Homo sapiens: one gene and its partners. The protein of the gene in region 1 purifies or fractionates together with the protein of each later gene. This does not show direct contact. Each region holds a gene or a part of one and is shown in the gene's direction. Other genes may lie near its edges.

What was found.
Region 2: the proteins of PCDHB11 (region 1) and SPECC1 purify together in Homo sapiens (co-immunoprecipitation; 3 studies listed by BioGRID and IntAct, with this or other methods). This does not show direct contact.
Region 3: the proteins of PCDHB11 (region 1) and CELSR3 purify together in Homo sapiens (affinity purification with mass spectrometry; 2 studies listed by BioGRID and IntAct, with this or other methods). This does not show direct contact.
Region 4: the proteins of PCDHB11 (region 1) and TMTC2 purify together in Homo sapiens (affinity purification with mass spectrometry; 2 studies listed by BioGRID and IntAct, with this or other methods). This does not show direct contact.

Annotation. Positions count from the first base shown.
Region 1 is NC_000005.10:141,194,643-141,202,901, forward strand, and holds the start of PCDHB11 (protocadherin beta-11 precursor), read left to right. Parts: upstream 1-4,984; 5' UTR 4,985-5,132; coding exon 5,133-7,526; 3' UTR 7,527-8,259. Other genes in the region: PCDHB10 (protocadherin beta-10 precursor), read left to right, coding at 1-313. UniProt on the Homo sapiens protein: Potential calcium-dependent cell-adhesion protein. May be involved in the establishment and maintenance of specific neuronal connections in the brain.
Region 2 is NC_000017.11:20,312,978-20,319,912, forward strand, and holds the end of SPECC1 (cytospin-B), read left to right. Parts: intron 1-998; coding exon 999-1,088; 3' UTR 1,089-6,049; downstream 6,050-6,935.
Region 3 is NC_000003.12:48,645,413-48,653,179, reverse strand, and holds part of CELSR3 (cadherin EGF LAG seven-pass G-type receptor 3 precursor), read left to right. Parts: coding exon 1-178; intron 179-626; coding exon 627-743; intron 744-1,131; coding exon 1,132-1,303; intron 1,304-1,461; coding exon 1,462-1,603; intron 1,604-1,700; coding exon 1,701-1,821; intron 1,822-2,104; coding exon 2,105-2,288; intron 2,289-2,598; coding exon 2,599-2,700; intron 2,701-3,964; coding exon 3,965-4,059; intron 4,060-4,251; coding exon 4,252-4,461; intron 4,462-4,718; coding exon 4,719-4,914; intron 4,915-5,183; coding exon 5,184-5,339; intron 5,340-6,251; coding exon 6,252-6,417; intron 6,418-6,922; coding exon 6,923-7,090; intron 7,091-7,311; coding exon 7,312-7,438; intron 7,439-7,530; coding exon 7,531-7,737; intron 7,738-7,767. UniProt on the Homo sapiens protein: Receptor that may have an important role in cell/cell signaling during nervous system formation.
Region 4 is NC_000012.12:82,682,642-82,689,905, forward strand, and holds the start of TMTC2 (protein O-mannosyl-transferase TMTC2 isoform 1 precursor), read left to right. Parts: upstream 1-4,264; 5' UTR 4,265-4,945; coding exon 4,946-5,028; intron 5,029-7,264. UniProt on the Homo sapiens protein: Transfers mannosyl residues to the hydroxyl group of serine or threonine residues.

The DNA of each region.
Region 1 (8,259 bases):
CTCGGTGTCTTCGCTCTTCCTCCTCTCGGTGCTCCTGTTCGTGGCGGTGCGGCTGTGCAGGAGGAGCAGGGCGGCCTCGGTGGGTCGCTGCTCGGTGCCCGAGGGTCCTTTTCCAGGGCATCTGGTGGACGTGAGGGGCGCTGAGACCCTGTCCCAGAGCTACCAGTATGAGGTGTGTCTGACGGGAGGCCCCGGGACCAGTGAGTTCAAGTTCTTGAAACCAGTTATTTCGGATATTCAGGCACAGGGCCCTGGGAGGAAGGGTGAAGAAAATTCCACCTTCCGAAATAGCTTTGGATTTAATATTCAGTAAAGTCTGTTTTTAGTTTCATATACTTTTGGTGTGTTACATAGCCATGTTTCTATTAGTTTACTTTTAAATCTCAAATTTAAGTTATTATGCAACTTCAAGCATTATTTTCAAGTAGTATACCCCTGTGGTTTTACAATGTTTCATCATTTTTTTGCATTAATAACAACTGGGTTTAATTTAATGAGTATTTTTTTCTAAATGATAGTGTTAAGGTTTTAATTCTTTCCAACTGCCCAAGGAATTAATTACTATTATATCTCATTACAGAAATCTGAGGTTTTGATTCATTTCAGAGCTTGCATCTCATGATTCTAATCACTTCTGTCTATAGTGTACTTGCTCTATTTAAGAAGGCATATCTACATTTCCAAACTCATTCTAACATTCTATATATTCGTGTTTGAAAACCATGTCATTTATTTCTACATCATGTATTTAAAAAGAAATATTTCTCTACTACTATGCTCATGACAAAATGAAACAAAGCATATTGTGAGCAATACTGAACATCAATAATACCCTTAGTTTATATACTTATTATTTTATCTTTAAGCATGCTACTTTTACTTGGCCAATATTTTCTTATGTTAACTTTTGCTGATGTATAAAACAGACTATGCCTTATAATTGAAATAAAATTATAATCTGCCTGAAAATGAATAAAAATAAAACATTTTGAAATGTGTGGTTGAGATTGCTGGAGATATTCATTTATATGTTGCAAATTTATTTTAAATACCAAATTTTTAATAAGCAAGAGGAACTAAAGGTTAGAATGAAAAACAAGTTTCATCAGTTTTTTTATATTACTATATATAAAATATATACTATATATAACTAACATTTTATAGTTTTTTAAGTTAGCTGTTCTGCCAGTCCCTTACCACAGTGTGGTTTCTTCTTGAATTGATCTCAATATTTATAAATAATATGTTTATAATACTATATCTTGATATTGTTTTGTATTTGAACCATTTCTTTCTATAATAGAAAAGCATTTTAGCTTTATTTCCAAACTAACAAACATATGCAAACATTGCAAATTCTTTTTCTCCTATTCTCCAATATAGATGTCACAGTTTCTTAGTTAAATTAGTGGTTATTATCTATATTGTTACATGCTTCAGAATATGCATTTGTATACTGTACTAGAATTACATTTCCATACTTGAAAAGTATGGTTCCTAGAGTTCGTAATTGTTATTTCATACTTGCATTATTTTCTATGTACCTCTATTGTTTTTTTCCATATCTTTCATTTGAATGTATTTTCTCCTTAAAAATATTCCAATTTTTAAGATACTCTGTCAATGACATTTATTTTCAGGAGCTCTTTCATCGTGAGTTTCCTGTTTCATTTAGACTGGTTAATCTATAGACTGTTACCCTGGGACTTTTTCCCTTCAATACTTTCCTGTATGAGTCTACTTTTCCAAGGTCCAGTATACTCTTTTTTCTAGTTTACTCTCTTATTCAGCTGGCACGCATCTCTCAAGACCTTCATATAAACGAATGCAGAAGAGATTTTTAAAAAATTGTCTCCTTACATTGTGAAGACATCTTTTTTGTTTGTTTTCATTTGCTTGATAGTTTGACTGGGTATAAAATTCTAGTTTGAAAATAATTTTCCCTCAAATTTTGAAAGCTGAAGCTGTCTCTTTTACTCATTGCATGTCGAGTTTCTTCAGAAGACTGACTTGATTTTGATTCCATCTCTCTTTGTGTCCTTCTCTCTTACCTCCTTTCCTGGAAGCATTGAAAAACTTTTTCCTGGTAATCTGAAAAGACCTTAATACAGGCATTTTATTTATTAATCTGGCCATGCAGGCATACCCTGTTAACATATAGACTCTTACTGTAAGTTCTGAGAAATTTTCTTGTTATGTTTTAGTAATAATTTATCCATTGAGTTTTCTACAGTCTCACTTTAACCAGAATCTCATTAAATATTGCACCTCCTGTGTTGATTTTCTGAGACTCTAAATTATAATTTTTTTCTTCTTTTCCATCTCTTGTTCTACTTATTAGACAATTTATTTAATCATCCAATCTCCATATTTAAGTTTTTCTTTTTGGATAGCAAATATTTATTTTTAAGAGCTCTTGGTTTTTCATAACATCCTATTACAAATTTGCAAATGTAAATCTTCTTTCATCTATAATTAATCTATTTATTCTTTAAAAATGCATTATATAGTAAGAGTTATTATTATACCTATTTTAAACTTGCAAGTGAATCAAAGGGAAGTTAAGAATTTGCCTAAGGCTATATAGCTAGTAAGGGGCACTTAAGCCCTAAGCTATTCTTTGTCTTCCAGGTATAAATACGTACTTGATAGGGTTACTGTTAACATCAACTAGGTAAATCCATATGAGGCACTAGAATAATGAACTTAGAATAAGTCAATAAGTGTTAGCTCTTATTACATTTTGTTTCTCTGGGGATACTAATCAGACATTTTAAAAGGCTTTCTTTTGTTTTCTGAATTATATCTATTCCCTCCTGTTGCTTTTTGTGCTTGGCGGTAGTATTACAGTTTTGGCTTTTCTATTTCATGTTGTAGGCATTTTCTCAAATGTCTTGTTATCTTTGACTGTCTTATTATATATATGAATGGTGACACAGCAAATGCTGACAGTCAACACTTCATGAGTATTGATGACAGGGCTTCACTCTAATGTAACCATGCTAGGATAGAGCTACTACCTTGGGAAACCCCCACATATCAGTACATGTAAGTCTTTATCTGCGCCTTTCATATTCCCCAGGATAGAATTCTACAATATTCAATGTTTTGGGTGCGATGGGGAAGATGTCAGGCATATATCTTGTGTCCTACAATCTGAGAGTATCATGGCTAGGAGTCTCACAATACAGAAGGCAGTGTTTTGCCTAATCTCCCTATCTTTAGTTTCATACCTCCTACTTTCACTCAGCTCTGCCTGGGGTTTCCAAGACTGGAGATAGTATAATTTCTCCAGAATATAATCTAATTTCTCCAGAGTATAAGCTTTCCATTCTCTGGCTCTCAGTTATTTTCTTGTCTCTGTATGATGGTGAAAAGACCAGAGAATTCAACTATCCTACATACATACTTTCAACTAATAACTTCTTTTTTAAGCCCTTACTTGACTTCAGCCTTCTTATACACCTGGTTCCTCCAAGTCTGGTACCTACTAGGATTGTGTAGGGAAAACCCAGTAGTTTATTTTTAGTATCTCCAATGAAGGAACTTTATTTTAGACATTTCTTGGAACTATTGTCAATTGCTCTTTCATCTGCTTTCTATCATCAAATAATTTGTGTATTTACTTATGTATTCTTAGTCTTTGTGAATTCATACCTTTTATTACTTTTCTGTCATTTTAGAGAGGGGTTAAGAAGAAGGAAGGATAATTGTATAGTCAATCCACATACTATTCAATTTCTACTCTTCTGCACTGATAATTTTTCAACCATGTATCTAGTTCACATTTTTGTGAATGTAATTTGAAATTAGAATTTTTAAAAGCAGACTTCTTAGATGTCCTCCATTATTGAGAGTACTTTGAGATGTCTAACAGTGGATACCATTGGTAGTTTCCAAGCACCTATTCCAACTATCTCCCTCATTATGCCATGCACTTTGGCTAGGACTGAAACCACCTCAAGTTTAAGGGGCAATCTCTGCCTGGATTAAAACAAAGGGTCAAAGATGGAGTCTTTAGATTCTGGGACTATAATCTCTACCTTTAATCCTATACATCTTGAGACACTGATTTCTTCAGTAACAGGCTGAAGTGCTCTCAGTTGGTCTAATCAGAATGAAGGCTAAGATTTTGTTCTATTATTGAGGAAGAAAATATCTCTCATTCTGTCTTCTTGAGCTGAAAAACAAAGCAGATAGCCATAGATGTTGCTGGAATAAATCTTGGGAAACTGAGGGAGGGCAGTCTTAGAAATAAGCCTGCTTTAAATGAAACTAACATGCTTGTGCTTGTGTATTTATTATTTTTTGAGAAGCTGGAACTAAATCAAGGATTCTCATAATGTGTTCTACTCCCAATATCTTACTTTACTTTCTAGCAGTTCACAATTCCTTGCTACCAAGGAAATCTATATAAATGCCTTCTTGTGCTATCATAACTATCAAAGTATGTCCCATCTCATGGTTAATCCAGTTTCATATCCTCTGAGAGGACTTCTAAAATGACCCATGTATAGTTTGCCTTTTCATTACCACCTAAGGAAAGTCAAGTAGTGATAGAATTTTGTACAGCTTAAAAATATTATGGTTGTTTTATGTTTCCAGTCTTCTCAGAAAGATTACAAACCACTGGGAGCCAGGAATCACATCTTGTATTTCTGTATTCACCACAACTAAGCACGTTTGGTTGTATGGAGAAGGGGGAAAGATAAATGCTTTAAGATGAATATTAACAGCATATCAAACTAAAGAGAATATGAAATAATTATTACAGAACGTGCAATATATTTGTAATCACTTGAACACAATGAATAAAACAATATTTGTTTCCGGAGGACATATAAGTGAATGGAATTTAGGTAGCTTTCACCAAACTGTGAAAATCTATGGAGACACTTGGTGGCGCTGCAGGATAACATCGTGAAAAATATATTCACTGGATGGCGTTGTGAACACTGATATCCAGTGCACACAGAGAATCAGAAGACAGAAACAACAAGCCTTCAAGAGGGTGACCTGGAAACCATTCAACAGGGTTAAAATCCTTAGACCACAGAGGATTTGGTGGACAAGTCAGAGACGCGTTCCGCAGAGCTGAAGCCTTTCTTCAAGAAGCCTACAAGAAAGGAACTATGGAGAACCAAGGGACACGCACTCAGCAGATAAGGCAAGTCCTGCTTCTCTTTGTTTTGCTCGGAATGTCTCAGGCGGGCTCTGAAACCTGGAGCTTTTCTGTGGCAGAAGAAATGCAGAGCGGGAGTTTTGTAGGCAATCTGGCAAAGGACCTGGGGCTGAAGGTGAGAGAACTGTCCTCACGGGGGGCTCGGGTGGTCTCTAATGATAAGAAACAGCGTTTGCAGCTGGACATAAACACTGGGGATTTGCTCTTAAGTGAAACACTAGACAGGGAGGAGCTCTGCGGTTCCATCGAGCCTTGCGTGCTACATTTGCAGGTGTTAATGCAAAACCCCACGCAGTTTTTACAAATTGAGCTTCAGGTCAGGGATATAAATGATCACTCTCCCATCTTCTCGGAAAAACAAATGCTCCTAGAAATCCCAGAGAACAGTCCCGTTGGTGCTGTGTTCTTACTAGAAAGTGCGAAGGATTTAGATGTAGGAATCAATGCTGTAAAAAGCTACACAATAAGCCCCAACTCTCATTTTCACATTAAAATGAGAGTCATTCCAGACAATAGGAAATACCCCGAGTTAGTTCTGGACAAGGCGCTGGATTATGAAGAGCTCCCGGAGCTCAGTTTCATCCTCTCTGCTCTGGATGGTGGGTCCCCTCCCAGGTCTGGAACTGCCTTGGTCAGGGTGGTGGTTGTGGACATTAATGACAACTCCCCTGAATTTGAGCAGGCTTTTTATGAGGTGAAGATTCGGGAGAATAGCATCCTTGGCTCGCTGATTTTGATTGTCTCAGCTTGGGATTTAGACTCTGGAACAAATGGTGAAATATGCTATACCTTTTCCCATGCCTCAGAAGATATTCGCAAGACATTTGAAATTAATCAAAAGTCTGGAGAAATTACTTTAAGAGCACCTCTGGATTTTGAAACGATTGAGTCATACTCAATAATCATTCAAGCCACAGATGGGGGAGGACTTTTTGGAAAATCTACAGTCATAATTCACGTGATAGATGTAAATGACAATGCTCCTGAAATCACTGTGTCATCAATTACCAGTCCAATCCCAGAAAATACGCCAGAGACCGTGGTTATGGTTTTTAGTATCCAAGATATAGACTCTGGGGACAACGGAAGAATTGTTTGTTCCATTCCGGAAGACCTCCCATTCGTGCTAAAATCTTCAGTTGAGAATTACTACACGTTGGAAACAGAGAGACCACTGGACAGAGAGAGCACAGCCGAGTACAATATCACCATCACCGTCACCGACTTGGGGATACCCAGGCTGAAAACCGAGCACAACACAACTGTGTTGGTCTCTGACGTCAATGACAACGCCCCCACCTTCACCCAAACCTCCTACACCCTGTTCGTCCGCGAGAACAACAGCCCCGCCCTGCACATCGGCAGTGTCAGCGCTACAGACAGAGACTCAGGCACCAACGCCCAGGTCAACTACTCGCTACTCCCGCCCCAGGACCTGCACCTGCCCCTCGCCTCCCTGGTCTCCATCAACACAGACAACGGCCACCTGTTCGCCCTCAGGTCGCTGGACTACGAGGCCCTGCAGGCTTTCGACTTCCGCGTGGGCGCCACAGACCGCGGCTCCCCGGCTTTGAGCAGCGAGGCGCTGGTGCGCGTGCTGGTGCTGGACGCCAACGACAACTCGCCCTTCGTGCTGTACCCGCTGCAGAACGGCTCCGCGCCCTGCACCGAGCTGGTGCCCCGGGCGGCCGAGCCGGGCTACCTGGTGACCAAGGTGGTGGCGGTGGACGGCGACTCGGGCCAGAACGCCTGGCTGTCGTACCAGCTGCTCAAGGCCACGGAGCCCGGGCTATTCGGCGTGTGGGCGCACAATGGCGAGGTGCGCACCGCCAGGCTGCTGAGCGAGCGCGACGCGGCCAAGCACAGGCTGGTGGTGCTGGTCAAGGACAATGGCGAGCCTCCGCGCTCGGCCACCGCCACGCTGCAAGTGCTCCTGGTGGACGGCTTCTCCCAGCCCTACCTGCCGCTCCCTGAGGCGGCACCGGCCCAGGCCCAGGCCGACTCGCTCACCGTCTACTTGGTGGTGGCGTTGGCCTCGGTGTCTTCGCTCTTCCTCTTCTCGGTGCTCCTGTTCGTGGCGGTGCGGCTGTGCAGGAGGAGCAGGGCGGCCTCGGTGGGAAGCTGCTCGGTGCCTAAGGGCCCCTTTCCAGGGCATCTGGTGGACGTGAGCGGCACCGGGACCCTTTCCCAGAGCTACCAGTACGAGGTGTGTCTGACGGGAGGTTCCGAGACAAATGAATTCAAGTTCCTAAAACCGGTTATCCCTAATATCCAGGCAAAAGGTCTTGGGAAGAATAGTGAAGAAAACTCCACCTTTCGAAATAGCTTTGGATTTAATTTTTAGTAAGAATGCTATTTACATTTGCATGTACTTTTTTAGTTTTATGTAACCATATCAATATTATTTAGTCTTAAACTAGTTACGTTATTATGCAATACGACTAATTGTATTTTTAATTTTTTCTTTTCTCCCCCAATTTTTTTTTTTTTTTTGAGACCGAGTCTCATTCTGTCGCCCTGGCTGGAGTGCAATGGTGTGATCTCAGCTCACTGCACCCTCCGCCTCTCGGGTTCAAGCAATTCTCCTGCATCAGCCTCCCGAGTAGCTGGCATTACAGGCGCCCACCACCACGCTCGGCTAAATTTTTTTTTTTTTTATCTTTAGTAGAGACGGGGTTTCACCACGTTGGCCGGGCAGGTTTTAAACTCTTGACCTCATGTTCCACCCGCCACGGCCTCCCAAAGTGCTGTGATTACCGGTGTGAGCCACTGCGCCCGGCCTTTTTTTTTTCTTTTCTTTTCTTTTTTTTGATACAGAGTCTTAGTCACCCAGACTAGAGGTCAGTGGCAGGATCTCAGCTCACTGCAACCTCTGCCTCCTGGGCTCAAGAGACCAGCCCACCTCCGCCTCCAAGTAGCTGGGACTACAGGCGTGCGCCACCATGCCCGGCTACTTCTTGTATTTTTTGTAGAGACGGATCGTCACCATATTTCTTAGGCTGGCCTTTAACTTCTGAGCTCAAGAGATGCACTCCCCTCAGCCTCCCAAAGTGCTGGGATTACAGGCGGCCAGGCCT
Region 2 (6,935 bases), on another chromosome or scaffold:
CTTTACATCAGGGTCCTTTCCTACTATTCTCTTTTAACCACACAGAATCCAAATTCAATCCCAAAGTTAATTATTAAATATGTCCAGTGGCACAAATTTCAGAAAAGTTTGAGTGCCTGACAGGATGCCCACCCTCTTGCCCCTCCCTTTCTGGCCTGGATGTTATGCATGCTCATTACAAGCTTACTTGCAAAATGAACAAAAATAAATCAGTCAGTAAAAACCAGCAAATTAGCAAAAGTAAAATAAAAATAAGCCAAAAAATCACCAAACTGTATTAAATAACAAACAAACAAAAAAACACATTAAGTAGTAACAATGCTGGTAAAATAAATGGTTGCATTTGAAATTGGTTCAAGGCTTTTGTGATAATCCCACTCAGTAATTTATCTTGAGGGACTAGTTCGACAGAAGGAAACAATACTGCACAAAGATGCTGATTGCAGAGTCTGTGGTGGTCACGAGGTGAGCGTACACTGGATGCCATGTCCCTTGTGGACAGCAGTTTCCCTGGTGAGTGCACATTCACTAGAATGGCAGCCCGCACAGTGGCACAGCAGCACGGGGACCCGGGTGTGAAATGCTCAGCCCACGTAATGGCACAGCCCACGTAATAGCGCGTGCAGTGTGCTGGGAGTCTGGGGAATTAGAGGTGGATTCAAATGTAATTTAGAAACTTGGAAATCATTTTAATAGTGAAATTATGGGTGATTTTTGCTTTTTAAAACTTGTTTAAATGCTGTCATATGGTTAAAAGATAAAAGCAGTGGGAGGTCATGTTTTCCGTTTTTGGAAAGGGACAGTATCTCCTGAATAAGTGGGAGGAAAAGTCCTTTAACTCATCGCTTTCAGCACCACCTGTGCTGGCCTTCACGTTCTGTCTGTGTAAGTGGAGGGTTTCCAGGCAGTGTAAGCCCTAACCTGGACTGAAGTCCTTGAGGGGAAGGGGTCTGTGATGTCCTGCCTTGTGATCTGTCCCCCATTCCCTTCCCCTGCAGGAACTCAGCGAGATGCTGTACACAGACCGGCCCGACTGGCAGAGTGTGATGCAGTACGTGGCCCAAATCTACAAGTACTTTGAGACGTAACCCTGGAGGGCCTGGGGCAGCCACCATTGCCACCTACTGCAGCTTTTCCTGGAAGCGCCTGATTACTGTCCACTGACCCTGCTCTGCCCACCACCCAGCTGCCTAGACTTCAAAGACAGGCTCAATCCAAGTGGACCAACACCCAAATAAGAAACAGAGTGGGTCCCACGATGTACCTGTCTGAAATGCAAATGCAGCTGGACTGTAAATTGGGGACTCTTTGATCTCTTGTGGGATGCTTCTAAAGAGGGCAGCCTCCCTCCTTCCAGACCAAGACCCCACACCCAGGCTTGTTTTGCTGATTATATTGGGTGGCTGAACGAACACATTATCTGCAGAAATTCAGACAAAGAACATCTCCAAATCAGTCTTTTGGTTGCTGTTGTTAAAAATATCCCGGCTTTGCCTTTATGAAACCTTTGCCCTTGGCTGGGTGTGGTAGCTCGTGGCTGTAATCCCAGCACTTTAGGAAGCCAAGGCAGTAGGATCGTTTGAGCCCAGGAGTTCGAGGCTGCAGTGAGCTATGAGCATACCACTGCACTCCAGCCTGTGTGAAAGAGCCAGACCCTGTCTCAAAAAAATGATAAAACCCAAAACTTTGCCCTTGTGAACCCTCCCTTCCCCCCTCCCCCCCCAAAAAAAAACAACAAAACACAAAAAATAAACATTTGTTCCAGGGCAACCTGGAAACGTGCGTGCGCACTCAGCCTTTTGGGGAAAAATGGGAGTTCTAGGTAACAATGTTAACACCTGGAACTTGATTCACTTTTAGCTCTCACCATCCCTTATTTGATTTATTGTAGCAAAAGGAAAGCCTGTGAGAATGCAAGGGAGCCCCTGGCTGCTTTGCTGGAGTCCCTGGGAGGTGCCCCACACCTCTGCCACCAAAGTCTGTGTGCTCCTGAGCAGCTCGCGGCTTTCACAGTAGGGAAACCGCAGTCCTCGTCACCTGCGCCTTTGTCCTCCCATTCGTTTACCCTCCCGTTCACATCCACACAGGCTTGTACCCCACAGAACTTGACAGGAGGTCACATGTGTGAATGGCCTGTGTCTGCTTTACAGGGTTGAGCAGGCTGAGGGTGTGTGCCTCTGGGGATGCTGGGCTGACAGCAAATCCCAACAGTATTTCGGCTCTGGACTGATTTGGCCTTTAGTGCTTCCCCAGGCCTCTTTCATCGGCATGGGAAAAGCCCTTAGGGGTGGGCGGTGAGGGCACATTTATAACTAACAAAGAAGAATGCAGTTGCCCCAGCATCCTACTGGTCACCTTAAGTGGCAGCAGAGCCCTCCCCAGCGGTGCCCCAGTCCCTCAGAAGTGCTCAGTCCGGCCCGAGTGCCCATCTGGTGGCTCTGCCGTGTTCTTCTGGGCGGATCTGTGTGCACTACACAGCGAGTGAGGGCGTGGCTCACACAGTTGTTTGAGGGAAATGGGTAATGCCCATCCCTTGCTGTTTTAAGTGCCAAATAGCGTGTTAGCGCCCCTCCAACAAAGGATCATCCTTCCAGTGAGTCACCGAGAATGACAGTGACTGCCATTACTATTCAAAGTACATCTCTGATTGCTGATCTGAGCCACTGGTTCAGAGCCAGGTTCTAGAGGCTGCAGGTCCAGCCCCTTACCATTCCTGGAGAGGTAGGAGCTCAGTCCCTTCCTCCAAGCCAGACCTTTGCAGAGGTGGCAACTGGGCTGCACGGGTCAGCAGATCCCTGATTCTCAAGCCACCTTGAGACAAGAACTCCGCCCCCCTGTTAGTGCATCCCAGCTGCAGCTCTGCATCAGAACCTACAGTGGACCCTTTTGAAAACACTCTTGGCTGCCCTAGTTGGTTAACTTCAGAATGTCTGGAATGGGACCAGAGATGCAGTTCACATGTTTTGTAAGTTCTTTAGGCGACTGAAGCACAGCTGCTTGGAGAACCACTGAGGGGTGGACACCTTCCCCTGGCAGCCACAAGGCAGGCAGCCTGCGGGAGCTCCTGAGCAGCTGTTGGGCGATGGTCATTACATCACCCATGCCTTTGTATTTAAATGAAACTCGACACATAGAACCAATTCAACCTGAAAGTTACTACTTCTGCTGATTCAGGCACTTGTTTGAAGCATTTTTTTTTTATTAACCCTGTACTTCTTCTTTGCCCACCATTAAAGTGGGGGAAAGTAATATCCCAAGTAGTTGAGTTGAGCTGTTGGTTGTTAGATTTAAGCTGGAATTAGTCCAGGGTTTTATGTGGGGAGGCAGTTGCTGTCTTGGGATACCCGGAGTGGGAGTGGGTGTTTTCTGTGATTGGTTCTGTTTTTTATTTTTACTTATTTATTTTGAGATGGAGTTTCATCCTTATTGCCCAGGCTGGAGGGCAATAGCACCGTCTCAGCTCACTGCAACCTCCGCCGCCCGTGTTTAAGCGATTCTCCTGCCTCAGCCTCCCATGTGGCTGGGATTACAGGTGCCCATCACCACACCCAGCTAATGTTTTTGTATTTTTAGTAAAGAGGGGGTTTCACCATGTTGGCCCGGCTGGTCTCGAACTCCTGATGGCAAGGTGATCTGCCTGCCTCAGCCTCCCAAAGTGCTGGGATTACAGGCATGAGCCACTGAGCCCGGCTGTTTTTTTGTGTTTTTTTTGTTGTTGTTTGTTTGTTTTTTTTTTTGAGACAGAGTCTTGCTCTGTCGCCCAGGCTGGAGTGCCAGTGGCGCGATTTCAGCTCACTCAGGAGTGAGCCACCACACCTGGCCTGTGATTGGCTCTATTTTGAGTGATTACGTGTAAATCATCTAGAACCAGCTCTGAGCAATGGCGTTGCGGTGTCCCTCCCTCCCCGCTGGGGCCATACCAGCCCCTCTCCACTGGGAGCCCAAGTTGCCAATGACTGTGGCCAAACTCCCCCATTTTTGTCTGTATCCTGCTCTCTTTAGGTTAAAAAGAAGGAAAGAAACATGAAAGGCCATGTACAATTTATTTTTACAACTCCAGGAGTTTCCCCGACTACCATTTTTTTTTTTTTTATTTGCCAGTGGTGTGCATGTAGAAGAGGAATGCCATGTCCTGTCCATAGAAATACACATGGTGGTCAGGCATGGTGGCTCATGCCTATAATCCCAGCACTTTGGGAGGCTGAGGTGGGAGGATTGCTTGAGCCCAGGAGTTTGAGACCAGCCTGGGCAACATGGCAAGACCTCTGACTCTATAAAAAAATTTTTTTTTTTTTTTTTTTTTGAGAGAGCGTCTCACTTCTCTGTCACCCAGGCTAGAGTAGTGTGATCTTGGCTTATTACAACTTCCGCCTCCCAGGTTCAAGAGATTCTCCTGCCTTAGCCTCCTAAGTAGCTGGGATTATAGGCACATGCCACCATGCCTGGCATATTTTTGTATTTTTAGTAGAAACAGTTTCACCATGTTGGCCAGGCTGGTCTTGAACTCCTGACCTCAAGTGATAAGCCTGCCTCAACCTCCCAAAGTGCTGGGACTACAGGGGTAAGCCACCGCGCCTGGCCCAAAATTTTGTTTTTTAATTAGCTGGGTACAATGATAGGCACCTGTAATCTCAGCTGCTTGGGAGGCTGAGGTGGGAGCATCACTTGAGCCCAGGAGTTTGAGGCTGCAGTAAGCTGTGTTTGTGCCACTGCACTCTGGCCTGGGCCAAAGAGCAAGACCCTGTCACACACACACACAAAAAAAAGAAATACAGGTGGTGTTTTGGGGAAGGGAAGGTTCTGCTGGGGTCCTGGAACTGTGACTGATGGCCTCAGGAGTCCAGGAATAGGCCTTCTAGCACAGCAGCTAGTAGGGCTCCCCCAAGCCATCCGCTGGCGTGTGGAGGTGCAGGACCTGGGGGAGGCAGTCCCCAACCCAGCTAGGCCAAGGGGTAGGGTTTTTAGGTCTGTTTTTAACAGAGCTCAGAGCACCAGGTGAAGGTGGAAAGTTGGCAGGAAAACAAGGTCAGCATCTTATTTTTTCTATACTCAGCAGAGTGTGCCATTCCCAGTTTCTGTCCTGAGGATTTCAAAGACCACAACAGCCACATTTCTTTCCATCTTCCCTCAGCCAGTAGTCATTTAAAATTCTTCAGTTGTTCTGAAGATCCTTTTTTTAATGTATCATTTTTACATGAAAGACAGCTGCAAAATGCAAGCCCCAGTAGAGTTGGAGAGTTTTTCAAGGTGAGAAGTCGCTGTTCTCTGCATTGAACATGGATTGAATTTTCCTTGTCTGATGGTAACCCATGGCCCCCGCCCTGCGGGGATAACATTCTCAGGAGCTTCTCTTGTCCTAGCCCCTTCTCATTTCAAAAATATTAGTCTTTTATTTTCCTTTTTCATTCAGTTTTTGTTTTACAGCTTTTGTAGAGACCAACCCAAGTAGATGCAGGTGGGTGTTAGATAAAAACACACATCCCCAGGGGACAAGCCATCCAGCGGTGAGGAATCTCTGCCATGTTCTCTTCCCTGCTGCCCACAAACGTTACGGAGACTCCCTTAGCCTCCCCCTCCTCTTCCCCACTGAGGGGCAGCTTGTGGAGATGGAGGACTCGGGCCCATAGATGCAGACCCCCTACCAAATCTAGCAATAGTTCTCACCCTTCCAAAGCTCGAGTGCCATTTTGAGATGACCTACCAATGACATGCAGTAAAGGACATAACCTCACAGCCTTTTTAGAAGCATTTCGAATATCTACAGTTGCCTCAATTCACGGGGCATTTCACTCCTCTGATCCAGGTTAGAATTTTGCTAAATCTGTAGCATCCTGAATAGCACACTAATTTTTTTTTTTAGCACACTAACTTTAACTACATTAGTTGAGTGTAGTTGATACATCTGTGGCCTCGTGTCTATAAAGAGCACACTAGATTGTACCCAGCACTTTTGGATATGACATGCTAATTAGATGTATTTAACTATTCATAGGAAAGTGTATGATAAATGACTGTAATATTTCTAATAAATATATTTTGTTTCTAATTATTTTTTTCTCACTGACATTTATCAATATTTTTTCAAAGTGCCACCCTTAAACTGAGTCTGTTTTCAGACCAGCATCTTCATGCATATATCCTTGTCGGGTCACAGTCTCCACTGCAGCTGCTCTTGCGGGTGGTGCTGGAATTTTCCACAGAGGACTGGGCTCCTGCTGGTTCCTCCGCTGCCCGTGTGCAGCTTTCTTGCTCAGGCCACAGGCTTACGTGAAGATCACCCTTCAAGGCCTACCCAGGACACTGCTGAGCTGTGCAGATGTGCACACGATATGTGCAATGTGTGACTAAATGCCAACTGAGACCCCAGAAACCACTCGCAGGGGGAATTATGCCAAGATTGAGGAGGCAGGGTGAAGATACTTTTTTTCTTTTTCTGGTTTTTTTTTTTTTTTGAGATGGAGTCTAGCCCTGTCGCCAGGCTGGAGTACAGTGGCACGATCTTGACTCACTGCAACCTCCGCCTCCCGGGTTCAAGCGATTCTTTTGTCTCAGCCTCCCGAGTAGCTGGGACTACAGGCACGTGCCACCACGCCCAACTAATTTTTGTATTTTTAGTAGAGAACAAGGGGTCACCATGTTAGCCAGGATGGTCTTGATCTCTTGACCTCATGATCTACCCGCCTCTGCCTCCCAAAGTGCTGGGATTACAGGTGGGAGCCACTGCGCCCGGCCACAGATATTTTGTAAATGATTGCTTCCTTACCCCTTCCTAGTTCATGTTTTCTTAAACATAGTTACATTTCTTCTTTGCTATACTAAAAATCCCTAATTTTAGTTGGTCAGAGAGAGGGATTTGAGACTGAGCTCCCATCTCCTCGGCTGCAGCATCTGATTAAAGCCTTCTTCCTTTGCAATACTCATCTCAGTGGTTGGCT
Region 3 (7,767 bases), on another chromosome or scaffold:
GGGGTTACTGTCTGTGACAGTGACCAGGGGCTCGGGCCGTGCTTCCCATCTCCTTCTGGACCAGGTGACTGTCAGTGATGGCCGGTGGCACGATCTGCGGCTGGAGTTGCAGGAGGAACCAGGTGGCCGGCGGGGCCACCATGTCCTTATGGTCTCACTGGACTTTAGCCTCTTCCAGGTCTGGCCTCTGACCCCGGGGTAGTCTGTTCTCAGCCTTCCAACCAGATCCGCCTTATTTGACCCCACCTCTAGTCCAGCTCCTCTCAGTTCCCTCCACTGCACTGAGTCTGATGTTCTACCCCTAGTTCCCCACCATATATCCTTGCACTGAGCCCACCCACCAGCCAAGTTGGTCCACTCTCAAGCCCTCTTTGTGCCAGATTTGGGGCCTGGTCTTGGGGAACCTCTGTAGCCAGCACTTTGCCTGATTCCTAGAAGCCCCTTCTAGTCTCTGCCCCAGTCTCTACCCACCCCCGGTCAAAATCAAGCAATATTAAGGTCTACTGTGGGTCCAGGAGGGAGGGGGCAGCCTAGAAGGGCTAGAAGAAGGCCAAGACTGACTCTGGGCTATGACAGGGGTTCATCAGGCCCCTCTCCCTCAGTGCTGACTGCCCCACTTCCTCCAGGACACCATGGCGGTGGGGAGTGAGCTGCAGGGCCTGAAGGTAAAGCAGCTCCACGTGGGAGGCCTGCCCCCCGGCAGTGCAGAGGAGGCTCCTCAGGGTCTGGTTGGCTGCATCCAGGTGGGGGTCAGCATGGGAATGTGATATGGGGCATTAGGGTCAGGGGTCAGAAGTCAGGGGCTCCTTGGGACCTGAAAGGCAGTATTCAAGTGGGGGTTGGTGCGAGGGGGTGAATGACCCAGAGTTGAGAGCTAGGTCAAGCCTTTCTGTGGCATTGGAGGTGGGAGTCTAGCTTGGATTATCAAGGGCCTTTAGGAATCTGTGTCAGAAACAGCACAATTAGGGTCCCACAGGGGTACCAAATTGGGGATATTTTTGAGGCCTGGGTTTTTTGAGGGTATCAGAAGACTGCATGTCAAGGATCATCAGACCGGGTGGCTGGCTCTGCAGTACTTGAGGCTGAGGTGCCTTAACATGGTCTCACCCCTTGCTGGCTGTGTGTCCACAGGGGGTGTGGCTCGGCTCCACACCCTCTGGCTCCCCGGCCCTGCTACCCCCCAGCCACCGAGTGAATGCGGAGCCTGGCTGTGTTGTGACCAACGCCTGTGCCTCTGGGCCCTGCCCACCTCACGCAGACTGCCGGGACCTCTGGCAGACCTTTTCTTGCACCTGCCAGCCAGGTGAGCCTTGAGAGGGTTGGGGGAAGGGTGACCTGGGCAGGCGTTAGGGGCCCATGATGAAGACTGGGGAACCTGAAGGAGGCAGGGACTCGGGACGGGTGCCTGCTTCCTTCCATGCTCTGCGACCAGGATCCTGAGCTTTCTGACCCAATCTGCAGGTTACTACGGCCCAGGCTGTGTGGATGCCTGCCTCCTGAACCCCTGTCAGAACCAGGGATCATGCCGGCACCTGCCAGGAGCCCCCCATGGCTATACCTGTGACTGTGTGGGTGGCTATTTCGGGCACCACTGTGAGCACAGGTAAGAGGCTGGGGCTGAGGCGATGGGGAGACCTGGCAGGGACAGGGAGGGTCACTGGGATACCGTGGAGGCATCTTACCTGGCTCTGCACCCCCAGGATGGACCAGCAGTGCCCACGGGGCTGGTGGGGGAGCCCAACCTGTGGCCCCTGCAACTGTGATGTTCACAAAGGTTTTGATCCCAACTGCAACAAGACAAATGGGCAGTGTCACTGCAAGGTGCGCCTGGCCCCTGACCTTTTAACCCTTCCTTGGACGCAATCTGCAATTCCTGTCCAGCTTGCTGACCTCCGCCACCTGACTTGGGCCCTAACCTCTTGCCTGTGTCCTGTGACCAAGTTGCTGTCTCTCATCCTTTACCCGTGACCCCTCCCTTGGCTTCACGCATGACCCAGGTGTCCTCTGGCCCATGAGCACTGTTCTCTTGACCCTTTATCCTTGATTCCACTCATTCCCCAAGCCCTGACCTCTGACTTCAGGCCCCTGGCCCATCCTCAAACAGGAGTTCCACTACCGACCGCGGGGCAGTGACTCTTGCCTCCCATGTGACTGCTACCCTGTGGGCTCCACCTCGCGCTCATGTGCACCCCACAGCGGGCAGTGCCCCTGTCGCCCAGGAGCCCTTGGCCGCCAGTGCAACAGCTGTGACAGTCCCTTCGCAGAGGTGACAGCCAGCGGCTGCCGGGGTGAGCAGGCTCCACCCAGCTCCACCCATAGAGGGCTGGTTCCAGTGTGCCACCATCACGTGTCAGTGGCACACATGGCTCCTTGGGGACTCTGGAAGCTTCTCCTGAGGGAGACCACTTACACCCAGGGAACCCTACCTTTGCCCCAAGTACTTTGCTGACCTGTCACAGAATCTGACAGGTCAGCTCCTGAGAAGCCAGCAGGAGTGGCGGGCAGTGGGCCTTGTGGGGGGTGGTGGAGGGGCAGTGGGTGTGGCTGTCAACTGCCCTGTACCCTGACTGCCTGGCTCAGCACCTCTTCTCTCTCTAGTGCTCTATGATGCCTGCCCTAAGTCCCTGAGATCTGGTGTGTGGTGGCCCCAGACAAAGTTTGGCGTCCTGGCCACAGTGCCCTGTCCCCGGGGGGCCCTGGGTGAGTATGTGGGGGGAAAGGACATCACTGAGGGTGGGGGTGGGCCTGTACTCTGACTGCTAGAGCCATGTCTTTTCCTAAATTGGGTGGCTTTGTTCCTGCAAAGAGGTGGAAGTGGGGTGGGAGTCCATGTGGGCCCCTCCCTACACCCTCATTGAGCCTCCATCTGTTTCTCTTGGCTTCTGGGCAGGATTGCGGGGTGCAGGTAAGGGGTACGTGTTTGCTCAGGTGCACTGCCCCCTCCCACTACCAGAGCTTTTGCAGACCCCTCCTGCTGCCTGAGGTCCCTGCAGACCCCTCCCTGCTGCCTAAAGTCCCTGCAGGCCCCTTCTGGCTATCTGAGTACCCCAGGGGCCCTTCTCTGATGCCTGAGATCCTCAGAGACCCCTCCCCATTGCCTGAGGACCCTGCTGACCCCTTCTCAGTTCCTGGGGTCCCCATAGAACTTTCCCCACTGCCTGAGGTCACGAAAGATCCCTCCTCAGTCTGAGGACCCTATAGCTCCTTCCTGCTGCTTGGGGGCCCCTCCCCACTGCCTGAGGTCCCCTCAGAACACTCCCTGCTGCTTGAGGTCTCTGCAGTGGCTGGACAGAGATTGTTTGTGTACGCATGCTCACGTGTGTATCTCTGTGCCTGTGCACGTGTCTGTGAACCTGTTGCGGGGAGGGGATTCTGTGATTAAGTTAGGCTCTCTCTTGTTGGTAGCTACAAACTTTTTTAAGATCCAAGTCAATTCTCATTCAACCTCCATCCCAACCCCAGAGACAAGGGAGAGAAATGACAGCAAAGTAACCACTGGGGCAGTTAAAACTTGTGTGAGAATCCTCCCACCTGACTTTCACTGGATGTTCCTAGAAGCCCTCTTCTGTGTTGGCATGTCTGTGTGTGTGCGAGAGAGCATTGTGTGTCTGCGTACTGGTCTGGTCCATACATCTGTGTGTAATTGGTGAGCATTGGTGTGTGTCTGTGTGAACCAGCACATCTATGAGCCAGTCCTGGCCCACGTGGGTGAGTGTGTGCAGCCCCACCCTTGTGCTTTGTGTGGTTGCTGGTTGAGAATGGTCTACAGCCCTCTCAGGAATTGCCTGACAAGCAGCTGGGGCCTACCTGGGCTTGGGCCGCTACCTCCAGGGGTGCAGCTATAGATGCTCATGACTCTGACTTCTGCCTCAGGGATTCCCCCAGCATAGGAGAGGGTGCTGCGGTTATCTCCTCAGCAAAGGTATCCAGGCCCCAGGCCTGACCAGGGGTTGCCTGCCTCCAGGTGCTGCTGTGCGGCTGTGTGATGAGGCCCAGGGTTGGCTGGAGCCCGACCTCTTCAACTGTACCTCCCCTGCCTTTCGAGAGCTCAGTCTGCTGGTGAGACTGCCCAGACCTTTTCCTGCAACCTAAGACCTTCCTTGGCCTGTGGTGGGCCCCAGATACCACACCCTAGCCCTTGAACTCCTGAGCCTTTCCTGGTTGCCCTTTAATCTGGCAAGGCTTTCTCCCTGTGAAGCTTTAGAGGAAGGCCTAAGGGACCACAGAGCAACCATCTCCTTGTCTTGGCAGCTGGATGGCCTAGAGCTGAACAAGACGGCACTGGATACCATGGAGGCCAAGAAGCTGGCTCAGCGGCTACGGGAGGTGACTGGCCACACTGACCACTATTTTAGCCAAGATGTTCGAGTCACTGCCCGCCTGCTGGCCCACCTGCTGGCCTTCGAGAGCCATCAGCAGGGCTTCGGGCTGACAGCCACACAGGATGCCCACTTCAATGAGGTGGGGCTGTGCCCTATGTTCTCAGTGCCTTGGCCCCCCAGCTCCCAGCCTCCTGCCCCTGGATCCCCAGCTCAGGCTCCTGCTGTTCTCTTGGGAAGTGAAGGTCCTGGGCTCTCCCTCTGTCCTTGTCCTCTCCAGCCCCGCCCCCTTGCCTGTTGGAGCCCCTCTGAGCACCTGTCCAGACCTCTCATGCCTGCCCTATCCCCTCATACATCCTCACCACCTGGCTGAACCCAATTCTATCTCTGTCTTCCCAGAATCTGCTGTGGGCCGGCTCTGCACTGCTTGCCCCAGAGACAGGGGACTTGTGGGCGGCGCTGGGGCAGCGGGCCCCTGGGGGCTCCCCAGGCAGCGCGGGACTGGTGAGGCACCTGGAGGAGTATGCAGCCACACTCGCAAGGAATATGGAACTCACATACCTGAATCCCATGGGGCTGGTGACGCCTAATATCAGTGCGTTGTGGGTGGGGTAGGGCGGGGCACAGCAGGGGGGCCATGAAAGGGCAGGTACCTGAAGGTCTGAGGGGCTGTGGCTATCAATGCCAATGTTAATGGCAGGAGACTCAGCCACCGCCCTCAGCGTTTTGTAGGGACAGGCTCCGAGCTGGTAGCACAGAAAACAGATTGTGGGACTCAGGTGCGGGATGCGAGTAAGAGGGAGTAGAACCCTTGGCAGGGGGAAGAGGTCCATGATGGGCCTCCCCTTTCTTTCTCCTGGGTAGTGCTCAGCATTGACCGCATGGAGCACCCCAGTTCTCCCCGGGGGGCCCGTCGCTACCCTCGCTACCATAGCAACCTCTTTCGAGGCCAGGATGCCTGGGATCCTCACACCCATGTGCTGCTGCCTTCCCAGTCCCCACGGCCATCCCCATCTGAAGGTGAGAGCCCCTAGGGGACCCCTGGGCCAAGTCCTGTCTCTCTGTCCCCCCAACCAGATACTATGTTGCCCTCCTGCCAATTTTCCCCTTTCTAGACCTCCCCAGTGTCAGACCCTCCCACATCTCCCCTCCACCCTCCCTCCCATATTTCCCCTCCACCCTCCCTCCCACATCTCCCCTCCACCCTCCCACATCTCCCCTCCACCCTCCCTCCCACATCTCCCCTCCACCCTCCCTCCCACATCTCCCCTCCACCCTCCACCCTCCCACATCTCCCCTCCACCCTCCCTCCCACATCTCCCCTCCACCCTCCCTCCCACATCTCCCCTCCACCCTCCCTCCCACATCTCCCCTCCACCCTCCACCCTCCCACATCTCCCCTCCACCCTCCACCCTCCCACATCTCCCCTCCACCCTCCCTCCCACATCTCCCTTCCACCCTCCCTCCCACATCTCCCTTCCACCCTCCACCCTCCCACATCTCCCCTCCACCCACCACCCTGCCTCTCACATCTCCCCTCCACCCTCCACCCTCCCTCCCACATCTCCCCTCCACCCTCCACCCTCGACCCTCCCACATCTCCCCTCCACCCTCCACCCTCCCACATCTCCCCTCCACCCTCCACCCTCCCACATCTCCCCTCCACCCTCCCACATCTCCCCTCCACCCTCCCTCCCACATCTCCCCTCCACTGTCCACCTTGCCACACCTTCACTTTGTCAGAGCCTCTCCCTCATCACAAATGACCCCTCCCAGGCCTTGACTGTTACTTTCTGGGTTCATGCTCCCTGCACTCCCCAATTCTGCTCCTGCAGGGAAGAGACCCCCATGCTTGATCGGGTTCAGAGCTGGGTTGGTGGGTGCTTTGGGTCAAAGGTCACTGACAGAAGCTCCTCCTTCTCTCCTGGCAGTTCTGCCCACAAGCAGCAGCATAGAAAACTCCACCACCTCAAGTGTGGTCCCCCCACCAGCCCCGCCAGAGCCAGAGCCTGGGATCTCCATTATCATTCTCCTCGTTTACCGCACCTTAGGGGGACTGCTCCCTGCCCAGTTCCAGGCAGAACGCCGAGGTGCCAGGTACTCAGGCCCCTCACCCCTGAGCTTCCTACGAACTTCTCAGCCTGGCAGCCCCTTTTTTGGTGGGTAGATGCGTAGGTTCACAACACACAGAGAGGAGCACAGCTCCAGGGAGCCCCATCCTTGCCGGGTTCTGTGTGAATCTTATTCTCTGGAGTTGTGCAGAGTGACAGAGCCACAGGCTGACAGACACAGAGCCACACACAGGAGGGATCCATGAGCCAGGTACAGACAGACCAAAGGGCTGACAGAGACAGACAAGGACAGGCTGACTGATGGGGGTAGGAGGGAGGGCAATCAGAGGCAAACAGTTGCAGGTCCCCTGGAGCTGCTCAGCCCCTCAGCAGCCCAGCAGAAGCTGGAGGGATTCTTAGAAACAGCTTCCACTCTGGGGACATCCCAGACCCTGGGTCAGCCCTGGCGAGTGGCATGAAGACGGGGTGAGGCAAGCAGGCTGAGCATGGGGAGGTCAGCAGTGCGTAAGCCCAGATGGGTGTCTCCCCAGGCTTCCTCAGAACCCCGTCATGAACTCCCCGGTGGTCAGCGTGGCTGTGTTCCACGGACGCAACTTCCTAAGGGGAATCCTGGAGTCCCCCATCAGCCTAGAGTTTCGCCTGCTACAGACAGCGAATCGGAGCAAGGCGATCTGTGTGCAGTGGGACCCACCTGGCCTGTGAGGACCCCCATTCTGGAAACCCTTGGTCCCGTTAGCCCTTGGGAGGCCAACTAATAGTCCCAGCCTTCCCCTGGGGCCCCCACTAGTGCTGTTGTGCAACCCGGACCATGAGGAATGCTGTACCCCAACTCCAGGCACCCTCAGCCCTTCCCATGATCTCTCACAAACCCCTGCCTGACACTGGGTCACAGTTGTGTCTAACTGCCCTGTGGCTGCAGGGCGGAGCAGCATGGTGTGTGGACAGCACGGGACTGCGAGCTGGTGCACAGGAATGGGTCCCACGCACGGTGTCGCTGCAGCCGGACAGGGACCTTTGGGGTCCTCATGGATGCCTCTCCCCGTGAGGTGGGGCTGTGTTCAGTGTCCCAAGGAAGTGGGGGGTCAAAGGGACACGGGGATTCTGCCCAACAACCCATCAACCATCCCTGTCTCTGTAGAGGCTGGAGGGCGACCTGGAGCTGCTGGCTGTGTTCACCCACGTGGTCGTGGCTGTGTCTGTGGCTGCGCTGGTGCTGACTGCAGCCATCCTGCTGAGCCTGCGCAGCCTCAAGTCCAATGTGCGTGGGATCCATGCCAATGTGGCAGCCGCCCTGGGGGTGGCAGAGCTCCTCTTCCTGCTGGGGATTCACAGGACCCACAATCAGGTGCAGGATCAGGGCCAGGGAACTTGTGTC
Region 4 (7,264 bases), on another chromosome or scaffold:
GGGCTAGTGTTTTTCTGCTTCTTAGTCAATCTGTTAAAATTTTAGCAGGAGATACTTGGATACCTTTTCAGAAAACATATGGAAGATTGTAATTATTTTGGCCCAGTACAATTTTAGAATTGAGAGAGCAAGGAAGAGGCGCAAATCTCCTGCTCATAAATAACCAAATCTGTGGGCACTTTAAAAAGCATTCTGTGCAGCAAGAGAATTTACGTGCCACATTTCACCCTTGGCACACTTTCCAAATGAATTGTTCAAAGAGAAGTTATATTAGGACAAATAGAAATGACGACCAGGACCAGATGTGGATCTTTAGTTAATATTTATGCAACACCCAAAGGGAAGATAGTATTGCACAATAAACTAAAAATGTCTTAGGCAAATAAGGAAATCTTTACCCTGAGGAACTGGCACTGCAAAGGTATGAATTATACAACAAAGGACTGAGAATGCAGAACAAATGCAGGGTAGGTCGGGGCTACTATAAAAAGGAATTCATTGAGGAAGTGGTGAGGTAGCAGATGTGTGGAGCCTACTTCAGGAAAATAAGGGCTTAGCGCTTTTTTGGCCAGTATTGTGTCTAAGGTAGAAAATTCAAGCCAGCCATCCTAATTTCCTTCACCTGTGGAGAGCAACTGTCGCTTTAAATAGAACATACACATATTCAGAACTGATGCTGCAACCTTACATCAAATAAGTACACCTTGATAAACTAAAAACCTATGTCCTCAGATTTTAAATGATCTCCAACAATAATGATGACATCTTTAATCTGATTTTCCTCCTAAAGTTGTTCCAGGAAGGTAGAAAATTCAGGAATTGGCTGCTTCTCAGCCCTTGGAGAGCAATCTAAAAGAGACCATGGCTTAATGCTCTGGAAGGATATTGAAACCTACATTAAATTATAATAGAAAAATTTGTTAAAAGCAACTGGATTTCTCAAACACAGCTAGGTTTTCAGCCTTCTGTTTATCAGGGAAGGCAAGATGTGCCATTTTACAGCCCATCTCCCAGTCACCTAGGCTTCCAATTCAGAGGTATTGGGAGGTGGGGAAAGGAGAAAACGAGGAGATGGAGGAGTGTATAAAATTTATTTAAAACTATTGGAGCCATGGCTGGGCGCAGTGGCTCATGCCTATAATCCCAGCACTTTGGGAGGCCAAGGCAAGTGGATAACTTGAGGTCAGGAGTTCAAGACCAGCGTGGGCAACATGGTAAAACCCCCGTCTCTATTAAAAATACAAAAATTAGTCGGGCTTGATGGCACACACCTACAATCCCAGCTACTGGGGATGCTGAGGCAGGAGAATCGCTTGAGCCCGGGAGGCAGAGGTTGTAGTGAGCCAAGATCGGGCCACTGCACTCCAGCTTGGGCGACAGAGTGAGATTCTGTTTCAAAAAAAAAAAAAAATTAAAAATTAAATTAAACTATTGGAGCCTTAAAAATGAACACAGCTGTGGAAAAGGCTTACAAGCTTTTAGCATGTGGAACCCAAAGCTCTCTAATATTTTTACATATCTGAGTCCTCTTAATAACTGAAGAGACCTGTCCATGTGACTCCCCTTCACGGGTATTCCTGCAGACTTGATGTATTCTGAAAAACTGTGAACCTGCTCCCTTCCTCTCTCCTTGGTTAATACTTCACGATCTTTAACACTAACGACAAACAATAAATCAGCGATGAAAATTTTTGGATTTTCCAGCTGTTACGTAGTTTCTCCTAAGCACATTTATTTTGTTCATTTATTAACAATCTTTTTAAAGTTTCTTCTCCGTGTCCAGATGTTATAGGCTCTGGGTTTTATGTGGAAAAGAAGACTGACAGGATCCCTGACCTCATGGAGCTTCCACTCAGTGGTGCTTCCAGATACTAATACATACTATGAAGAAACTAATACATGGTGGTTGGATAGAGATTGATGGGGGAGAGCCTACTTTATTTCTGAGGTTATGCCATTTGAGCTAAGACCTGAATGGTGAGAAGGAGCTAGAGAAGGTTTGAGGAGAAGAACCTCATGCAGGAGGAAGAGAAAGTGGTTAGTTCCTGAGAAGGATGTCTGTGTTGTACACATATGAACACAACATGAAGCGGGAGGGGTAGTCTGGGCTAAATGAAGGCTTGGCTGGCCATGGTAAGAATTAGTTTTATTAGCTGTAAAACAGGAAGTTGTTGGACATTTAAAAATACAACAGGAAGTTGTGGAACATTTAAAAATTGGGAATGTATAGGTTTTCAAAGGAAACTTCTGCCTAAAGTTAAAATTGGGGAAGGGAGGCATTGCAGGGGTAGAAGTACGGGGACCACTTAGAGGGCTACTGCATTTGTCTATGCAGGAGATGAGGGCAGCTGGGCTGTGGACTCAAGTAGTAAAGATGTGATAGGATGTGTTTTGGAGGTAACTGTCCAGGTTTTTGTTAACAAGTAAAATGAAACGAGGAAGCTAGAAAGCATAGTAATAATGATATACTAGCTAATACTTCTGTAGCACTTTCCTGGTCCCTTTTAGATATTTTACATAGGTTAACTACTTTAATACTCATAATAACAGTACTCATAAGATAAGTACTATTATTATCACTGTTTCATAGATTAGAAAACAGAGTCACAAAGAGGTTGAACGACTGGCCAAAGATCGCCCAAATAGTAATAGCAGAGTATGCACTCAAACTTAAACATCTGATCCCACAGTATGTGTTCTTCCTTCAGTGTTCTAGGACACCATATACATATTTTATATATACTATATATATCTCAGCATGTAAGTGCATTGGAGAGACACAGAGCATCAGGATGGACTAACTGATATGATTTTCAAAATTTTCAAGTGAGCAAAGGTTATGGAGGAAAAGGGTAAAAGATCAGTCCCTACCTGTAAAGACATAATTCCTTTTATTTTTGTTTACATATATTTGTCCAGGGCACAAAAAATGTGCTACTGTGGATGGCATAACAGGTATAATATTAATAAATATTCATCATTTTATCTGTGTGTATCCAATACAGATTTCTCAGATTTCCTTGTGAAATCAGGGAAATATGTAGCTTTGTTCTACAGAAGCCCAGACCACGGTATTTTCTTTCCAGGCCACTGCTAGACACCCAGGGGGCTCAATTTCTTGCCACAGTTTCGGAGAGCTTGCTGGTTAGGTGCTGCTCTTGGTTGGAACCAGTCGGCCCGCATGCAAAACAGACCTGTCTTCCACACCTTGTGGTTACTATGCAGCAGGGGGCGCTGCAGTAGTGTACATCGCGGTGCACCGGAGCTACTCTCCTGGCCAGAAAGCCAACAAGCCGGGAGGAGGCGTGTCAGGCAGCCCTGGGTCCTCTTTGGTCTTGCAACTTTAGTACCCAGAGCTTGTTCTACACAGACCATTCTACACCATATTTCACCATGTTGGATGCTTTCCATCCAGTCCTGCCTCCGAGCGGAAAGGAAAGGGCATTAGCTTACTGCCTTACTAGGTTTAAGTATAATGCTGTACCGGCTTGCACTAGAGGTTTCTCTCCTGTGTTCTCAGGGTCAACCCGACAGTCCCTCTGAAACCACGAAGGGGTCCCCGGGCAGTTGCTGCGGGGTGTGTGTGTGTCTTTCTTTCCCTTTTTGGGGTCCTTTCTTTTTAACCTTACTGAAGGAGGAAACGTTTCTCTCCCTACACGTCTTTCCACTGACATTGTGGCCAACCGTAGGCTAAGAGCTGAAATCTCTCCTTCCTAAGTTGCCTCCAAGCTCTCCAATACTACCTCCTCCCCCCCATTTAGTCTCACACACAGTGTGCGTGAGAGATCGCCAGTGAGTTTGTGACAACCGAAGCTGCAGCAGTCGCCAAACCTGTTCTTCCTCTCCCGGTCTCAGAAGTCTCTCCAGCTGACCGGACTTACGCCTGGCAGCTCTTGGCACACACAGCGCTGTGGCTGAGATTCAGCCGTGCCAGGCGCTGCCAGGCAGCAGCGGGGCGACCGACCACCTCCTCCTCGACCTCCTTTCTCCCAGCTTCCCCTCCCAGGGTGCACTGTATCTACTCCTTTGGGCTGTCTTCCAGCCGTCGCCCTTGGGTCCCGGGGGCTTTCCAGAGTGAAATCGAAGGTGAAAGAAACAAGAGGACGGGAGGCTGGTAGGAGGAGCCTCCAGGCCGGGGAGGGTGGGAGGAGCCTCCAGCCCGAGGGGCAGGGTAGGAGGAGCCTTCCGGGAGGATCTGGGTGGAGAAAGGGGCTGGGCCAAGCCGGGATGGAGGGTTGGTCACGCAGGCGCGGGGGGCCGCGTCGAGAACCCCACGCGGGAGCTTCTGGAGTCTCCAGCCACCGCTTCTCACTTCACTGGAGAAGGGAGCTGGGGCTGGGGCTGGGGCTGGGGCTGGGAGGGAGCTAATAAACATTGAATGTGCAGCAGCTGCCTTGGCGGCCGGAGTCCGCCCGAGCGACACCGGAGCAGTGCGCCCGGGAGGCGGCGAGGGGAGGCGGTTCGCCTTGTCCCTCCCACCCGCGCCTCTTTCTCTCTCTTCCTCCAGCTGGTCCCAGAGCCCGGCTTGGTCCGGTCCCTCTGCCCCCATCCCGCACCCTTCCACCTCCTCCGAGTCCCACTCCTCACCTAGGACGCCCCAAACTGCCATGGGTTAGGGTGGGGATCGCGACCCGCGCGAAAGACCAGCCCTGCGCTTCCGCCGGGGGACGCGGAGCCCAAACGCCGCTCACCGCTTGCGGGCGCCGGGCATGGGGAGTGTGGTGTGAGCCCGCACCCGGGGAGGACGCAGGAGCTGCGGAGACGGGCGCGAGGAGGAGGAGAGGAGTCGTGGATTGGAAGGACCCGAGGGAGGGAGGGTGGGGAAGCGAGGGAAAAGTGAAGCTGGGAGGAGAAGGCGGCGGAAGGTGGAGATTGATGCTTCTGTTTTTTGTTGCCGCTGCTGCCCTCGCGCTGGGAGCCGAGCCGGAGGGAAGGCGGTGGAGAGATGATTGCAGAGTTGGTGAGCAGCGCTCTGGGGCTCGCCTTGTATCTCAACACCCTGAGTGCGGATTTCTGCTATGATGACAGGTAAGGGGCCGAGAGGAGGGGGCGACGGGCTGCAGGGGGCACACTCCGCAGTGGCTCTGAAGCTTCCCTCTTTAAGGCTCAAAGTGCGTCTTGGAGGAACTGGTTCAGCACCTGATGGTTTAGGCGACACGTAAACATTAACACCTAAATCAAACACCGGGGACGTGAGGCGCGCTGGGCGGGCCGAGGGAGTTTCCGCTCCTAGTTTGCAGCAGGTTCTCTCCCTTGCTTCTCGGCTGTTGGCAGACGCTTGAGTTTCTTAGCGGAAATCCCGGCAATTTGGGAAACTGTTTAATGAACGTATTAAATTAAAGTCTTAGGTATTCCTTGATGCAACAAAGCACATTAAGTGATTTTACGTCTGGTTGGGAGGAAGCCTCTCCTCGATCCCTGATAGATCCTCCCTGTCCCGTTTCCTTTTATTGATGGGACACTTTTATTTCCCGAAGTTAAAACACACGTTTGATAGTTGCCAAAATTGTGAAAAGGGAGATCGTTCTCTGCTTTAACTTTCCCTTTTAACGTGTATAGACTTTTACTTTGAGCCAAAATAATGCTGCTGATGGTCTCTCCCGCCGCCCTAGCCTCCTTCACCAATCCATTGGGCAGCACTTTATAAAAGCCTCGGCTTTCTCATTTCTGTTTGGGAGTTGTACATTAGATGTTAGTGGTTCTTTTGTACTAATTGGAGAAGAAGACGCCCCTAGAGACTGAAGTTGTCTTCTGCACTTAGGTTAGTTTGGGTGGCTAATGAGACCTGAACTGTGTTGTCAAAGAAACTGCATCGATTTCTGGAAAATGTCACCGTTGTGTTGGTGTCTCTTCCTATCTTTTAAACGTTATTAGTGTTCAGAAAGTGATGAAAAGCCCCTATATCCATTAGGGAAAATTCCAATTTGTGTCCTTCCGGTGTCTTAATCTGATTACAATTAAAACAGATGCATAATTAAAATATATTAGGGATAACAGCACGCCTGGCTAAACTTATTAACCGTCCTGGGGTGTTTCATGCTCCATTGAAATTAAACCATCCAAAAAGTGAGCACAGATTTACTTTGACAGCTTTTCAGCAGCCTCTCTGAGCTATGAAAAGTGAATGGATCCCCAGGGTTAGGGCGAGGCAGTGAGAGCACTTACGCAAAGTGGTTGACAGTGAGGGGAGGTGAAGGCAGAATCTTCTTCTCGTCGTAATTAGCCACATTCTGTATTCTCTGGTGTGCCCATTCTCCTGCTAAAAGCATCTTCACATCTCTGTTAAAAAATCACCTGATAATAGGTGCCAGAACATCCAGCAAACCCGTCTTAATGCATTTTATGTAGTGCCTACCAGAGGCTAGTTGATAGGGAACCACTGTTAGACATACATTTTTTCTTAACTTTTACGCAGCATACTGATTTTAGCAACTACACAGCATGCTCTGAGAAATGGTCTGTAGGAGTGAGGTAAATTTCTGTTCTCTCCAATTTTGTGTAATGGTGCACCTGCTATTTCTAGCATATTCGTGGAAAAAGCCCTTGTTTCCAAAGATGGGTGACTTTTCACTAAAACCAGCTTGGGTCAGTGTGGGCAGTTACTGGCTCTGTTGGGGGCGGTTTGAATAGTAAGCATTTAAACCAAGAATATAGAGTTTATTTAAAAAAAGAAACTTACTATAATAATGCAACTTGATGGGTGACTTTTCACTAAAACCACCTTGGGTCAGTGTGGGCAGTTACTGGCTCTTGGGGGCAGTTTGAATAGTAAGCATTTAAACCAAGAATATAGAGTTTATTTAAAAAAAGAAACTTATTATAATAATGCAACTTGTTATAGAACACGGTGGTGAATCAAGTATTCCTATTGTATGCCCTTGTTCATTGCTGTCTAATCCTTAAGAAAATACACATCAGAAGAAGCCATTCTTTAAAAATTAAGGTTAAATTTGGATATGCATTTTTCTATAGGTATAATTGTTCTGTGCTCTTGAGTCATCAGAAGTGTTAGGACTGGACCTTGTAACTTGGAAGAATGGTGTGAGTGTGATGATAAATTAGTTGTGCTTTGATGGTTGGCAGTTGTAAGTTTTTCAGATGCAATAGTCTAATGGAGTGTTAAAATTCGTGACTTCTATCTTGTAGCTACATAGGTGAATATAGTATGATTATTTGCCCATATGATTTTATTGATAGCATGCTCAATATGATGTCTAGATAGTATATATTGATAAAATATTGAGGGCCTGTAACTGTGAATTAT